Linked DNA regions of Homo sapiens. The protein of the gene in region 1 interacts with the protein of each later gene in a pairwise test. Each region holds a gene or a part of one and is shown in the gene's direction. Other genes may lie near its edges.

Region 1 (3,500 bases):
ACCTCTGGGCTCAAGCCATCCTCCCACCTCAGCCTCTCAGGTAGTGGGGACTACAGGTGTGTGTCACCACACCTGGTTAATTGTTTTGTATTTTTCGTAGAAACAAGGTTTCACCATGTTGCCCAGGCTGGTCTTGAACTCCTGGGCTCCAGCAGTCCACCCACCTTGGCCTCCCAAAGTGCTGGGATTACAGGTGTGAGCCTCCACACCTGGCCTTAAGTATTTTTAATGATCATAATTAATTCTGGGGAAAATATGGAAAAATGGGCATATGGCTGATAGGAACATAAATTGGACAGCCTTTCTAGCAAGTAGTTTGGTAACATATTTTAAGCCACTTAAGAAGCTTTTCCAGGGCTGGGGGAAATGGAGAAAGAATACTAATGGGTATGGGTTTCTTTTGGAGTGATGAAAATGTTCTGAAATTACATAAGGCTATTAGTCGTACAGCATTGTGATTTTTTTTTCATCTCTGCTGCTGGCAGATGAATTGAAAGAGAATTTTATCGTATACAAACCATTATCTCAATAAAGCTATTTTCTTACTTTTTTTTTTTTGAAACGGAGTCTTACTCTGTGGCCCAGACTGGAGTGCAGTGGCATGATCTCAGCTCACTGCAACCTCTGCCTCCCAGATTCAAGCAGTTCTCCTGCCTCAGCCTCCCAAGTAGCTGGGACTACCGGCGTGCACCACCATGTCTTGGCTGATTTTTGTATTTTTAGTAGAGATGGAGTTTCACCATGTTGGCCAAAGTGGTCTTGAACTCTTGACCTCAAGTGACCCACCTGCCTCGGCCTCCCAAAGGCTGGGATTACAGGTGTGAGCTACGGTGCCCGACCAATAAAGCTATTTGTTTAAAATAGTTAATGCCTTTGACCCAGTAACATGCTCAGTGATGTATAGTTCAGCTTTTATTACATCAAAAAATTGGAAACTTTTGGCTGGGCGCAGTGGCTCATGCCTATAATTCTCAGCACTTTGGGAGGCCGAGGCAGGCAGGTCACCTAAGGTCGGGAATTCAAGACCAGCCTGACCAACAATGGAGAAACCCCATCTCTACTAAAAATGCCAAATCAGCCGGGCATGGTGGCGCATGCCTGTAATCCCAGCTACCTTGGGAGGCTGAGGCAGGAGAATCCGTTGAACCTGGGAGGCAGAGGTTGTGGTGACCCGAGATCGCGCCACTGCACTCCAGCCTGGGCAACAAGAGCAAGACTCCGTCTCAAAAAAAAAAAAAAAAAAAAAGTTGGAACCTTCTTAGTTTATTTTTCGTTTATTTTTCTTTTCTTTTTTTTTTTTGAGAGAGTCTCGCTCTGTCTGTTGCCCAGGCTGGAGTGCAGTGGCGCGATCTCGGCTCACTGCAAGCTCCGCCTCTCAGGTTCACGCCATTCTCCTGCCTCAGCCTCCCGAGTAGCTGGGACTCCAGGCGCCCACCACCACTCCCGGCTAATTTTTTGTATTTTTTAGTAGAGCCAGGGTTTCACCGTGTTAGCCAGGATGGTCTCGATCTCCTGATCTCGTGATCTGCCTGCCTCAGCCTCCCAAAGTGTTGGGATTACAGGCTTGAGCCACCGTCTTAGTTTATTTTATTTTATTTGAGATGGAGTCTTCCTGTGTTGCCCAGGCTGGAGTGCAGTGGCACAATCTCAGCTCACTGCAACCTCCGCCTCCCGGATTCAAGCAGTTCTCCTGCCTCAGCCTCCTGAGTAGCTGGGATTACGGGCACCCGCCACCATGCCTAGCTAATTTTTGTATTTTTAGGTAGAGATGGGGTTTCACCATGTTGGCCAGGCTGGTCTTGAACTCCTGATGTCAAGTGATCTACCTGCTTCAGCCTCCCAAAGTGCTGGAATTACAGGTTTGAGCCACTGCGCCTGGCCCATTCATTGTTTTTTTTGAGAGAAGGTTTCACTCTGTCACCCAGGCTAGATTGCAGTGGTGTGATCATGGCTCACTGTACCCTGGAACTCCTGAGCTCAAGTGATCATTCCACCTCATGGCTGATGAGACCACAGGAGTTCATCACCACATCAGGCTAATTGTCTATGTATTATGTGAAAAAGTTTTAAAACCATAGTGTTTTTATATGTGAATTTTTTAATGAAGAGAATAGCCTGTCTTCACACTTTTTAGAGTACATATGTGGATAATGGATCATTTTAAAAATATTTTATTATGGAAAGCTTAAAACATGTGTAAGTAGGCAGAATAATATTGTGTGCCACCATGTACATAATATTATTTTTTTCAATTCCTGGCCAATTTTGTGTCTTCCATACCCCAGTTCTTTTCTACGTCTTCCTTATTGTTTGACACAAATTATTGATGTGTCATATCATTTAATCTAGGTATTTCAGTATATTTTTCTGAAAAAGAGACTTTAAGAAACATCTGCCATCATTATCACATGCAAAAAATTAATGATTCTAGTCAGTGTTCACATTTCCAATTTTCTTATAAATGTCATAAATGATACTTTTTTTTTTCTTTTCGAGACAGGGTCTTGCTCTGTCTCCCAAGCTGGAGTGCAGTGGCACAATCAGAGCTCACTGCAACCTCAACCTTCTGGCTCTAGCAATCCTCCCACCTCAGCTTCCCAAGTAAATGGGAGTACAAGCGTGCACCACCACACCTAGCTAATGTTTTTCTTTTCAGTAGAGATGAGGTCTTGCTGTGTTGCCTAAGCTGGTCTCAAACTCTTTGACTCAAGTGATCCTCCTGCCTCGGCCTCCCAAAGTATTGGGATTACAGGCTTTAGGTACCACATGTGGCCTGTTGTGTGTGGTTTTATTTGTTGTTTTTTTTTTAAACTCTTTTTTTCCCCACAAACCAATTTGTTAGTGTTTAGGTGGTTTTTTCTGTTTTGCTTTTTTGTTTTTTGAGATAGGGTCTCGCTCTGTCACCCAGGCTGGGGTACAGTGGCACGATAACGGCTCGCTGCAACCTCAGTTTCCCGGACTCAAGCTGTCATCCCACCTCAGCCTGTTGAGTAGCTGGGATTACAGGTGCCCGCCACTATGCCCAGCTAATTTTTTGTATTTTTAGTAGAGACGGGGTTTCGCCATGTTGGCCAGGCTTGTCTCGAACTCCTGACCTCAGGTGATCCACCTGCCTTGGCTTCCCAAAGTGCTGGGATTACAGACGTGAGCCACCATGCCTGTACTTTTTTTTCGATAAACATGAATTCATGTTAGTTGTATAATTTTTTTTTTTTTTTTTTGAGACGGAGCCTTACTCTGTCACCCAGGCTGGAATGCAATGGCACAATCTCAGCTCACTGCAACCTCTGCCTCCTGGGTTCAAGCGATTGTCCTGCCTCAGCCTCCTGAGTAGCTGAGATTACAGGCATACACCACCACGCCCGGCTAATTTTGTATTTTTAATAGACATGGAGTTTCTCCATGTTAGCTAGGCTGGTCTCAAACTCCCGATCTCAGGTTATCCACCCACCTAAGGCTCCCAAAGTGCTGGGATTATAGGCATGAGCCACTGTGCCCAG
Region 2 (3,500 bases), about 21 Mb from region 1:
TTCAGCACACTGGCAACGAGCACATCAAACAGATTGCCACTTGTCCTGTCGGCGTCTTTGAGACACACTTGCCCATCTAGGAAAGCACAGTGCAGGTATCTGTGTTCTGCCACCGTGTGCCAGCCCGGACCAGCTCACAGACAGCCCTGCCTGTCTTACTTGGGCTGCTCGGCTTCACTGTCTCAGGGCCCCTGAACCTCCCAGAGCCCTCCGTGATTGTTGGAATGTGAGTATAGCTGTGTGCTCTTGAGTTCCTGTTTTTATAATCACGTGAAGATGTACTTGATCTGCTTCTGAGCATGATATGAGGCAACCTGGGGTGTGCAGAGGGCCAGATGCACGGGGCTAAAAGTTCAGGTTTAGCGCGAAGTTATTTGTTGTGGCCTGCCCCTCCCCTGGCTTGCGCGGCCATCTGCTCCAGCGTTTTATAGGCAGCCAGTTCCCTGGGCTGACTTTCATGGCTTTCCTTGCCATGCTTTATTCCCCAGGACCTGTCCTCTTCTTTGTGAACTCAGGTGTGCCTGGTCCCAGGTGGCCCTTACACGTTCATCCAGTGAGCAGATGGAGCACAGGCCCCGGGGGCAGGTTGGGTCATGGTCCCGGGGTGACAGCTTCCCTTTCTGATCTGATCCTTCCCTTTTAGACTCTCAGGCTTTGGGAGTATTTAATCTCTCTTGAAAGACTCCATGCTTGCTTTTGTGTGTGGCGGGAGTTTTTGTTTCCTTCTGGCTGGGATGAGATGAGCAGATACGGGATCTGCACCCAAGTGTGTGGGGGTTTAGCCACTGGTTGTGGGATTCTGCTCAGCTCTTTAACAAAGGCAAAGCCACATGTTCTGGCCGCAGAAGTTGGATTCGTAGGTAAGGATGGGGTTCATCCTCTTCAGTATTGATGTGCCTTCAAGTTTTCAAGAATTTCTGTTTTCCTTGGTTCACTCAAGCAGCCTGGATTCCAAGTGCATTAATTTGTGTCTCAGTGGTTCAGTCCTTTAGGTCATGTTCCAGGGAAGGCTCCCCTTTCTGAAGAGGGGAGGGCTGCGCCTGGGTCCACGGAGGTGGGGAGGTGGCTCCTCTGCCCCGGCTTGTCGGTGTGCACCTGTTCTTCAATGAGCGAGGTGCGGGGGGTGGAGTTGGGCAGCACTCCATGACCGAGCACACCCGGGAACCTCCTGACTGCCACGGTGTTCCGCCCTGGTGCCAGCAGCCACTTTATGGGCACAGTTCTCAGGAAAAGCTGACAGCCATGTAGTAGTCATAACAGTTCTTCAGAGCAGGGCTGTCCAGTAGGAGTTTCTGGCATGACAGACTCCTGGCGTGTCCCTGCAGTCCATTAGGGCAGCCATTAGCCACGTGTGGCTCTGAGGAACTGAGGTTTCATTTATTTATTTATTTTATGAGACAGGTCTGGCTCTGTCACCCAGGCTGGAGTGCAGTGGTATGATCTCGGATCTCTGCAACCTCCGTCTCCCTGGCTCAAACCATTCTCCCACCCCAGCCTCCCGAGTAGCTGGGACCACAGGCATGTACCACCACGCCCAGCTCATTTTTGTATTTTTTGTAGAGGCAGAGTTTTCACCATGTTGTCTAGGCTGGTCTTAAAATTTGTGGGCTCAAGGAATCCACCCGCCCTGGCCTCCCAAAGTGCTGGGATTACAGGCGTGAGCCACTGTGCCCGGCCAGGAACTGAATTTTTTAAGATGTCTAATTTTAATTAATTTAAATTTCAACAGCCACATGTGTCTTAGGCAGAGGGGCAGTGCTTGGCGACTGTTCCCATCTTCACTGCAGTCCTCTGGGAGAGCCAGGGCCTCTGGCCCCGTTTGACAACATGGGAAACTGGCTCAGAGGGGCCGGGTGTTTTGCCCTAGGACACAAAGCCAGTAGGCAGCCGAGAGGGAACTTGAATCCACCCTCTCGACTCCCACACTTGGTGCGCCGTGTTCCTGCTCCCCAGATAGAAGGGCTGCTGAGTTACCAGTGCGCAGAATAGGAAAGTGTCCTCTGAAGCAGACGAAAGGGCTGGGTGTCCTGTGAAAGTTCCTTGGCCTGTGGGAGCCGTCCTCAGGCCATGGGGCCGCATGCCCGTGCCTTTGAGTCTGGGGCACGGGCTTTCACTGCTTCAGTCCTCTGCTTTCTGTGGGTCCCAAAGAAGCAGGGCTTAATTAGGCAGAAGCGGGTGGAGGTCCAGCCCAGCACCTCCTGTATCATAGGTGATCAAGTGACCCTTTCACTAAGTGAAAAGCAGCCTGACGGATGGGTTGACTTTTCTGGTACCAGTTCTCTTAATAACCATAATTGTTTTTCTCCTCCTGTGACTCCTGTGGCTCATGTCTGTAATCATTACAAATGTCCCTCCAACCTGTGTCTTTTGGGAACCTGTTACATTCAGGCCCAGTGCTGGGGAAACTACGATGAAAATGCAGCCTCTGCCCTCATGGAGCTTCAGGCCTGCCTGTGAGCCCGGGCCCCACTCCAAGAAGGGGCCTAATGTGGATGCTTCCACTCAGATTTGCCTCTGCTGGGTCTCTCAGAACTGGGAAGGTGATTGGTGGCTGGCCTGGCAGCTTAGCCAGTGTTTGCTCAAGGGAAACGGAGCTGGAACTGCCCTCCTCTTTTTGGGCAGGACTACAGGTACACACCAGCATGACACCTCAGCCATGAGAAGCTGCCCGCGTCCAGACTTCTGCCTTTCATGGACACCGAGAAGGTTCTGGAGCAGGAAGTGAGCCACCTCCCGCTCTTCTTGGCAGTGGAAGGAGGCCCTCCCACGGGTATCTGGTCCCTTTACCTCAAGGGATATAGGGTTGAACAGAATTTTTCTTTTTAAGAATAAGTTTATAATTATTTTTCCTGTTATAAAAGAAACACTTTGGCCGGGCGCAGTGGCTCATGCCTGTAATCCCAACACTTTGGGAGGCCGAGGTGGGCGGATCACGAGGTCAGGAGATTGAGACCATCCTCGCTAACACAGTGAAACCCCGTCTCTACTAAAAATACAAAAAATTAGCCGGGCGTGGTGGCGATTGCCTGTAGTCCCAGCTACTCTGGAGGCTGAGGCAGGAGAATGGCGTGAACCCAGGAGGCGGAGCTTGCAGTGAGCCAAGATCACGCCACTGCACTTGAGCCTGGGCGACAGAGCGAGACTCCGTCTCAAAAAAAAAAAAAAGAAACACTTTTTTTTAAAAAATATAGAAAAGCATGAAGAAATTGACAAGTCACCTATTAGGCCACCATCCAAAGAAAACCACTGTTGATCTATTTTCTTGTTTCTTTTGAGACAATGTCTCGCTCTTGTCCCCCTGGCTGGAGTGCAGTGGTGTGATCTTGGCTCACTGCAACCTCTACCTCCTAGGTTCAAGCGATTCTCCTGCCTCAGCCTCCTGAGTAGCTGGGATTACAGGCGCCTGTCACCACACCTGGCTAATTTTTGTATTTTTAGTAGAGACGGGGTTTCACCATGTTGGCCAGGCTGGTCTGAAACTCCTGACCTTAGGTAATCCG
Region 3 (3,500 bases), on another chromosome or scaffold:
ATAAGAACGGTTAGTCTATACTATTTTACAGTATAGCCTCTGCTGTCAAAGCCTTGGTCTGTCTTGAAAGCTTACTCTGAAGCCTGCCTCCCCTGCCTACCTTTCCAGATTCTTCCCATTATATTTCTTCTCTCCTCTCCCCTCCCAGCCTCTCAGAACACACTGTGTTGAGCTCTTTTTATAGCACCCACCGCAATCTGCTCCTGAATCAGTTTAATAGTGTCTATTTCTTCCTTATTTCAAGCTCCTGGAGATGGAACCTTGCCTTTTTTGTTTTTTCTTGAGTGTTCTTCTATAGTACCTAGCAGTAGGTTCGGGGCTGGCCTGTTTGAGGTCCAGTCTGGGTTTAGTAAATGCTGTGTTGAATTCCAAAGGATCATATAGCCTCCTCTTTAGAGGTGTGAATGTATCATCATCCCTAACTCATTATGTTTATCTATTTGGCTCTGCCTGTCCCTAACAAACAGTGGCCAATTGCTTTTTATTATCCTTTATATTTGCACATAGGTTCTCAGGAAATAACTCAGAAGAGATACTTAATGTATATTTCTTAAACTGTATTTAAAGTTATGTAGGTTATTCTTTGTGGGAGAGTAAGAAAAGACTACCAGAAAGAAGAAAGTGGAAAAAAAGGAAAGATTGATCCACTGAAGACATACTTATATCGCCTTCAGATATTTATTTAATAGTATGTAAAGGTAAATAATATTAGGAACAAGTTTTTTCTTTTATAGGCACTGATAAGGTGGTGGTTAAATGTTTAAGATGCACTGATATTCATTAGATTTATTTCATAACACTTTCTGGATCAATTGTTAATTTTTTATTTGACTTTAGGAGTTGAGGTATACACCACAACTATACATTTTTTTAGACTGGTGATTTGATTATCATTGATCAAGTGATCATTTATGCTTTCAAAAATGTTTCTTCAAAGTAGTAACAAATTATATGATTGGGCCTTTTCTTGAAGCTTGAATTAAAACTTGTGTTTTTAACTTTCAGTGACTTGTGGAGTAATTTGGATATCTAGATACTGAAATGCAATGTACAGATGAGTATTGATTTTTAATATTTGGAGCTCCAACTGTTCTCACATGAGCACTAGCTTGTTTACTAAGCAAATAATTTAAGAGCGTGCTCTATCACTCTCCCTGGGTGTGTGTGTGTGTGTGTGTGTGTGTGTGTGTGTGAGAGAGAGAGACAGAGAGAGAGAGAGAGAGATTGATTCTCACTTGCTTGAGGTGTCTTCAGGGCAGGTATGTAGCCTAAGGTTTTGTGCTGCCAAATCTAGCATAGTACCTGACTGATGGTTAGGAAAGGATTACTGTGTAGATTAATAAATGGCTTGGGATGCAGAGACATATAAAGCAGTATGCTGCCAAGAAGGCCTGGTAGTGCAGATGGAGAGCCAAAGGGATTTAATTACAGTGTATCTCACTGATGTAACAAAGCCCAGTAGGGAGGTTGCCCAGAGGAGGGAGGCATAACTGAGCAGGGGTGGATCTCAGGAAAAATGTTGTAAATGATGTGCTCAAGATTAGATGTGAGTGGGAGAATCTCAAGTACACATAGGGAGGGAATGACATTCACGGCATGCAAGTAACAGGCCACTCTGATGTGAAAGATCTTTGTCTTGGAACTGTGGATTTTTTTTCTCCCCCTAATACAAAATGTGAGGGGCATAGTGGCAAGAGACAAGGATGAAAAAGACATGTCAGATCACAAATGGCTTGGAATGCCAGGCATGGTAGTATGGAGGAGACCAATGGTGATAGATGCATAAAACTCATCTTCACACCATTTCTCCTGCGGTGTTCTCTCAAGCCTAGAGGCCCATTCCAGAAATCTGGGTATTTTCCTTATCTGTCCTTTTTCTGTTGTGTCCCACATCTGATCAGTTACCAACTATTATCATGTCTACTTCTAAATTTCACTCTAATCCATTCCTTTCTCTCTGTCCTCAGTGTTCTGATTCTTACACTCTGTTGGTCTAACAGTCTCCTGTGTTACCCAATGTTTGTGAAATCTCTGTGTTGATAGAGCTGAGAAACACAGAGATGTGCTGCCTCACCATCCACCCTTTCCTCCCCAGTCCATTCTCACATTCTAGCCAGAGAGAAATTTCTAAAGGCAAATCTTGACCATGCTAGTTTCTGCTCAAGATGATCTTGGCTTTGTCATCGCCCTTAGGTGAAGTTCAGTTCCTTGGCCCGAGCTTCAGCACCTCCTCGCTCAGTCTCCAGTACAGTTCTCTCCGTTCCCCACCAGCACATGCCCCTCCTGTCTTGCTGAGCTTTGTTCTTCACCTATGCGGGGCTACTCTCAGCTCCTGCCATGGAACCCCCCTTTCCTCCCTCTGCTTTACCCCATAGCCCTGTGCTTTGGATTGTTGCTTCTAGGAAGTATTTTCAAATCTGGATTTATAGCCCTTGCTGTGTGGACCTGCAGTGCCCAGTATTTGCCCAATTGTGACATTTATGAAGCAGCTTTTTAATCGCTTGCTTACTTGTCTCTTTCCTCTAATAGACTGTGAGTTCTGTGGTGACAGAAACCAAGTGTAACCTGTTTACCATTTGATTCCCAGCACCTGGCATAGTGCCTGAAATGTAGTAGGTATTTATTGATACTTAGATCCATAGATATGTGAAGTACTTATTCCTATGTCGAACACATAATACTCAATAAATGATGGTAGTTTTTATTGTTTACCGCCATATACAACAGCTGCAACTATTATTCTATCCATTTTTTTTACTAACTCTCTAAGAAGCAATGAGATCAAAAGCTGGTTTATAGTGATGTGAAGAGCAACTTCAAGGAGAGGAATTGGAGACCAAGCAAAGATGAATTTGTTAAAATGGTTGACTGAAAAAATACCTTCATTGAAAAGGTGGTAGTCAGAGAATCAGTAAAGTCAAAGGAAGGTATTTGTCAATGATGAAGGAATACTGGACATGTACATGGGTTGAAGAAGCGAGTCCAACCTGAAGATACAGGTGTGGAGTTGGATCAGTTCTCCAAGCAGGAGGATTGATCTTGCACCTGAGGAAAGAAGGCATCTTACATAATAAGGGGAAAATCGAAGGGATGGGGTTGCTGGAATATGTGCAGGGGTCTGGGAGGAAAATGAAGGCAATGCTGAGGGTAATACAAGCATGTTTAATTCTGTTGTGTGAAAGGTATCTTTTAAGCAAACCAATTACCCTCTTTTTCTCTTTCAGCTGTTCGGGGGTCTTGTCTGGATTTTGGTTGCCTCCTCCAATGTTCCTCTACCTCTACTACAAGGATGGGTCATGTTTGTGTCCGTGACAGCGTTTTTCTTTTCGCTCCTCTTTCTGGGCATGTTCCTCTCTGGCATGGTGGCTCAAATTGATGCTAACTGGAACTTCCTGGTAAGGACTTTTTATTTTAAGTCTATTGCAGGAAGATGGGAGAAACCTGTATCCTATTCTGTTCTGAAATGCCAGAGTCCCAGTTCTGTTGCCCCTAATGGGAGA
Region 4 (3,500 bases), on another chromosome or scaffold:
AAAACAGAGAGAGGGATGCTGGACAGGCACCTTTTGGGGGGCTAATAGAAATTGTTGGCTGGGTGTAGTGGCCTATGCCTGTAATCCCAACAGGAGGCTGAGGCAGGTAGATCGCTTGAGCCCAGGAGTTTGAGACCAGCCTGGGCAATGTAGTAAGACCCTGACTCTACAAAAAACCACAAAAATTAGCTAGGCATGGTGGCGTGCACCCATGGTCCCACCTACTTGGGAGGCTGAAGTGGGAGGATTACCTAAGTTCAGGAAGTGGAGGTTGCAGTAAGCTGAGATCCTGCCACTGCACCCCAGCCTGGGTGACAGAGTGAGACCCTGTCTCAAAAAATGTTTTTTTCTTCAAGGGAAACAGTGGCATCGATTGGACACTGCTTAAATTGCTAACGGGGGTAGTTTAAGGGGGTGGTTCACAGTTGCATGTTAGGCCACACTGCATTCTTTTTTTTTTGAGACGGAGTTTTGCTCTTGTTGTCCAGGCTGGAGTACAATGGCTCTGTCTCGGCTCACTGCAACCTCTGCCTCTCGGGTTCAAGTGATTCTCCTGCCTCAGCCTCCTGAGTAGCTGTAGCTAGGACTACAGGCACATGCCACCACACCTGGCTAATTTTTGTATTTTTAGTAGAGACAGGGTTTCACCATGTTGGCCAGCTGGTCTCGAACTCCTGACCTCAGGTGATCTGCCCACCTCGGCCTCCCAGAGTGCTGGGATTATAGGCATGAGCCACCTTGCCCGGCCCACACTACATTCTTGATGATGTCACATCTTTGTGACAGTGCCTAGCCTGCTGCATGCACCTCATCTCCTAGCTCTTTCACAGCTGATGACACCGAGGCACAGAGGGATTACATAACTCAGCTAATAAGTGGCAGGCTCTGGATCTGAACTCGGGCAACTTGATGGCAGCATCAAATCACTTAACCATTGTGTTTTCATGCCACCCAAATGCGTGCCTCCCACGCACAGACCCCCACTTACCGCTCCCGTAACATACCGTTCATGGATTCTGACACATGACTCAGAATCTGTCCCGCACAGGACGCATACACGTTAGGCGAAGTCATCCTTGGTGGTGTTTCTATGGTGATGAGTCCTGGTTAAGTATAGTCAGCGTCTGAAAGTCTATTTGAAGTTGATTTCTTAGAGCTATATAAAAGTAATCTCTTGTCCAGGCACAGTGGCTCATGCCTGTAATCCCAGCACCTTGGGAGGCCAAGATAGGCAGGTCATTTGAGCTCAGGAGTTTGAGACCAGCCTAGGCAACATGGCAAAACCCCTGTCTCTACAAAAAATACAAAAATTAGCCAGGCATGGTGGCACAGGCCTGTAGTTTCAGCTACTCGGGTGGTTGAGAGAGGAGGATCGCCTGAGCCCAGGGAGGTGAAGGCTGTGGTGAGCAGCCATGATTGTGTCACTGCACTCCAGACTGGGCGACAGAGTAAGACTGTGTCTCAAAAGAAAAAAAAAAGGAATCTCTTGAAAGTTTACCACCAGCAAGAGGCACAGCTCTAAGGCACCACACTTAAGTGGCGGTATGGCCCTATTGCAGTCTACTGGACTGCCCAGCGACTTCTGATGCTCCTGGGCCAGAACCATGTCTGTAAATGCCGTGAGATTCCTCTAGCAATTCCTGCAACACATGTTGACTCCCCAGTCCTGGATCTTCCGACAGCCAAGATGTGTTAAGGAGGTGTCTTCAGATGTTTCACATCTGTACTGGGAACAGGAGTCATTAACCTCATCTTCCCACTGGGGCAGAGCTTGGGTCTCAGAGGACAGCAGAGGTGGCAGAGATCCCTGAATCTTCCAAAGGAAACTTGCTTGTTTGTGTCTTCTACATGCGGAGGATGGTAATTAGACAAGTAGGGAAGATGCTCTGGGCATGACAGCTCACAGAGCTCATGTGAGCAGTTCTCCTTTTTGTTGTTGTTTTGTAAGAGAGGGTCTCACTTTGTCGCCCAGGCTGGAATGCAGTGGTCCCATCATGGATCACTGCAGCTTCAACTTCCTGGGTTCAAGTGATTCTCCCTCTTCAGCCTCCTGAGTATCTGGGACTACAGGCACACACCACCACACTTGGCTAAGTTTTGTAATTTTTGTAGAGATGGGGTTTTGTCATGTTGCCCAGGCTGGTCTTGAACTTCTGGCCTCAAGCATTCCTCCCATCTCAGCCTCCCAAAGTGCTGAGACTATAGGTATGAGTGCCTGGTCCTCCTTTTTTTTTTTCAACCAAGAGTTTCACTCTTGTTGCCCAGGCTGGAGTGCAGTGGTGCCATCTTGGCTCACTGCAACCTCCGCCTTCTGGTTTCAAGCAATTCTTCTGCCTCAGTCTCCCGAGTAGCTGGGATTGCAGGCAGGCACCACCACGCCCAGCTAATTTTTGTATTTTTAGTAGATGGGGTTTCACCATGTTGGCCAAGCTGGTCTTGAACTCCTAACCTCGTGATCCGCCCACTCCAGCCTCCCAAAGTGCTGGGATTACAGGCATAAGCCACTGCATTCAGCCCTGGCCCTCCTTTTTTTTTGAATGGAATCAGTTCTACTTTTTTTTTTTTTTTTTTTTTTGAGACAGCGTCTTGCTCTGTCGCCCAGGCTGGAGTGCAGTGGCTCAATCTTAGCTCATTGCAACCTCTGCCTCCCGGGTTCAAGCGATTTTCCTGCCTCAGCCTCCTGAGTAGCTGGGACTACAGGCATGTGCCACCATGCCCAGCTAATTTTTGTATTTTTAGTAGAGTTTCACCATGTTGGCCAGGATGGTCTCGATCTCTTGACCTTGTGATCCGCCCGCTTTGGCCTCTCAAAGTGCTGGGATTATAGGCGTGAGCCACCACACCTGGCCTTTTTTTTTTTTTTTTGAGATAGAGTCTCGCTCTGTTGCCCAGGCTGGAATACAGTGGCACGATCTCGGCTCACTGCAACCTCTGCCTCCCGGGTTCAAGCGATTCTTCTGCCTCAGCCCCCTGAGTAGTTGGTATTACAGGCGTGTGCTACCACAGCAGGCTAATTTTTTTATTTGTAGTAGATACGGGGTTTTACCATGTTGATCAGGCTAGTGTCGAACTCCTGACCTTGTGATCTGCTCACCTCAGCCTCCCACAGTGCTGGGATTAGAGGCGTAAGCCACTGTGCCCGGCCTCCATTCTACATTTTTATAAGTAATACATATTCACACAGTTAAAAATTCATGTAGCAGCCATGCATAGTAGTTTTTATAACACAACTAAAAACTGGCAACCTGAACGTCCGTGGGAATGGATCATTACACTGAGCACCCAGAGAGAGGTGAAGCAGGAGAGTGAATAAACTGAGCTACCTGTGTTAACATCCTGCAGAAAGTTGCAGAGGGGTATGTACAATGTGGCACTTGCAATAAAGGCAAAAACATTGAAAACAACACAGTATATTGCTTAATGATACATTGTATGTAGTCCAAGTATAAAGACTTGCAAAGGAGTGATAAAGACCACAGTTGGTGCTATCATGGAAATTC

Evidence for each region. Proteins that work in one complex are often made in the same cells at the same time.
Region 2: the proteins of RETREG3 (region 1) and TMEM11 interact in binary tests that used the Homo sapiens proteins (3 or more experiments, as listed by UniProt).
Region 3: the proteins of RETREG3 (region 1) and MAL2 interact in binary tests that used the Homo sapiens proteins (3 or more experiments, as listed by UniProt).
Region 4: the proteins of RETREG3 (region 1) and TMEM120B interact in binary tests that used the Homo sapiens proteins (3 or more experiments, as listed by UniProt).

The regions. Positions count from the first base shown.
Region 1 is NC_000017.11:42,599,375-42,602,874, reverse strand, and holds part of RETREG3 (reticulophagy regulator 3), read left to right. Parts: intron 1-3,500. UniProt on the Homo sapiens protein: Endoplasmic reticulum (ER)-anchored autophagy regulator which exists in an inactive state under basal conditions but is activated following cellular stress.
Region 2 is NC_000017.11:21,207,662-21,211,161, reverse strand, and holds part of TMEM11 (transmembrane protein 11, mitochondrial), read left to right. Parts: exon of another isoform or gene 1-226; intron 227-3,500. UniProt on the Homo sapiens protein: Plays a role in mitochondrial morphogenesis.
Region 3 is NC_000008.11:119,218,363-119,221,862, forward strand, and holds part of MAL2 (protein MAL2), read left to right. Parts: intron 1-2,880; exon of another isoform or gene 2,881-3,045; intron 3,046-3,224; coding exon 3,225-3,395; intron 3,396-3,500. UniProt on the Homo sapiens protein: Member of the machinery of polarized transport. Required for the indirect transcytotic route at the step of the egress of the transcytosing cargo from perinuclear endosomes in order for it to travel to the apical surface via a raft-dependent pathway.
Region 4 is NC_000012.12:121,719,252-121,722,751, forward strand, and holds part of TMEM120B (transmembrane protein 120B), read left to right. Parts: intron 1-3,500. UniProt on the Homo sapiens protein: Necessary for efficient adipogenesis. Does not show ion channel activity.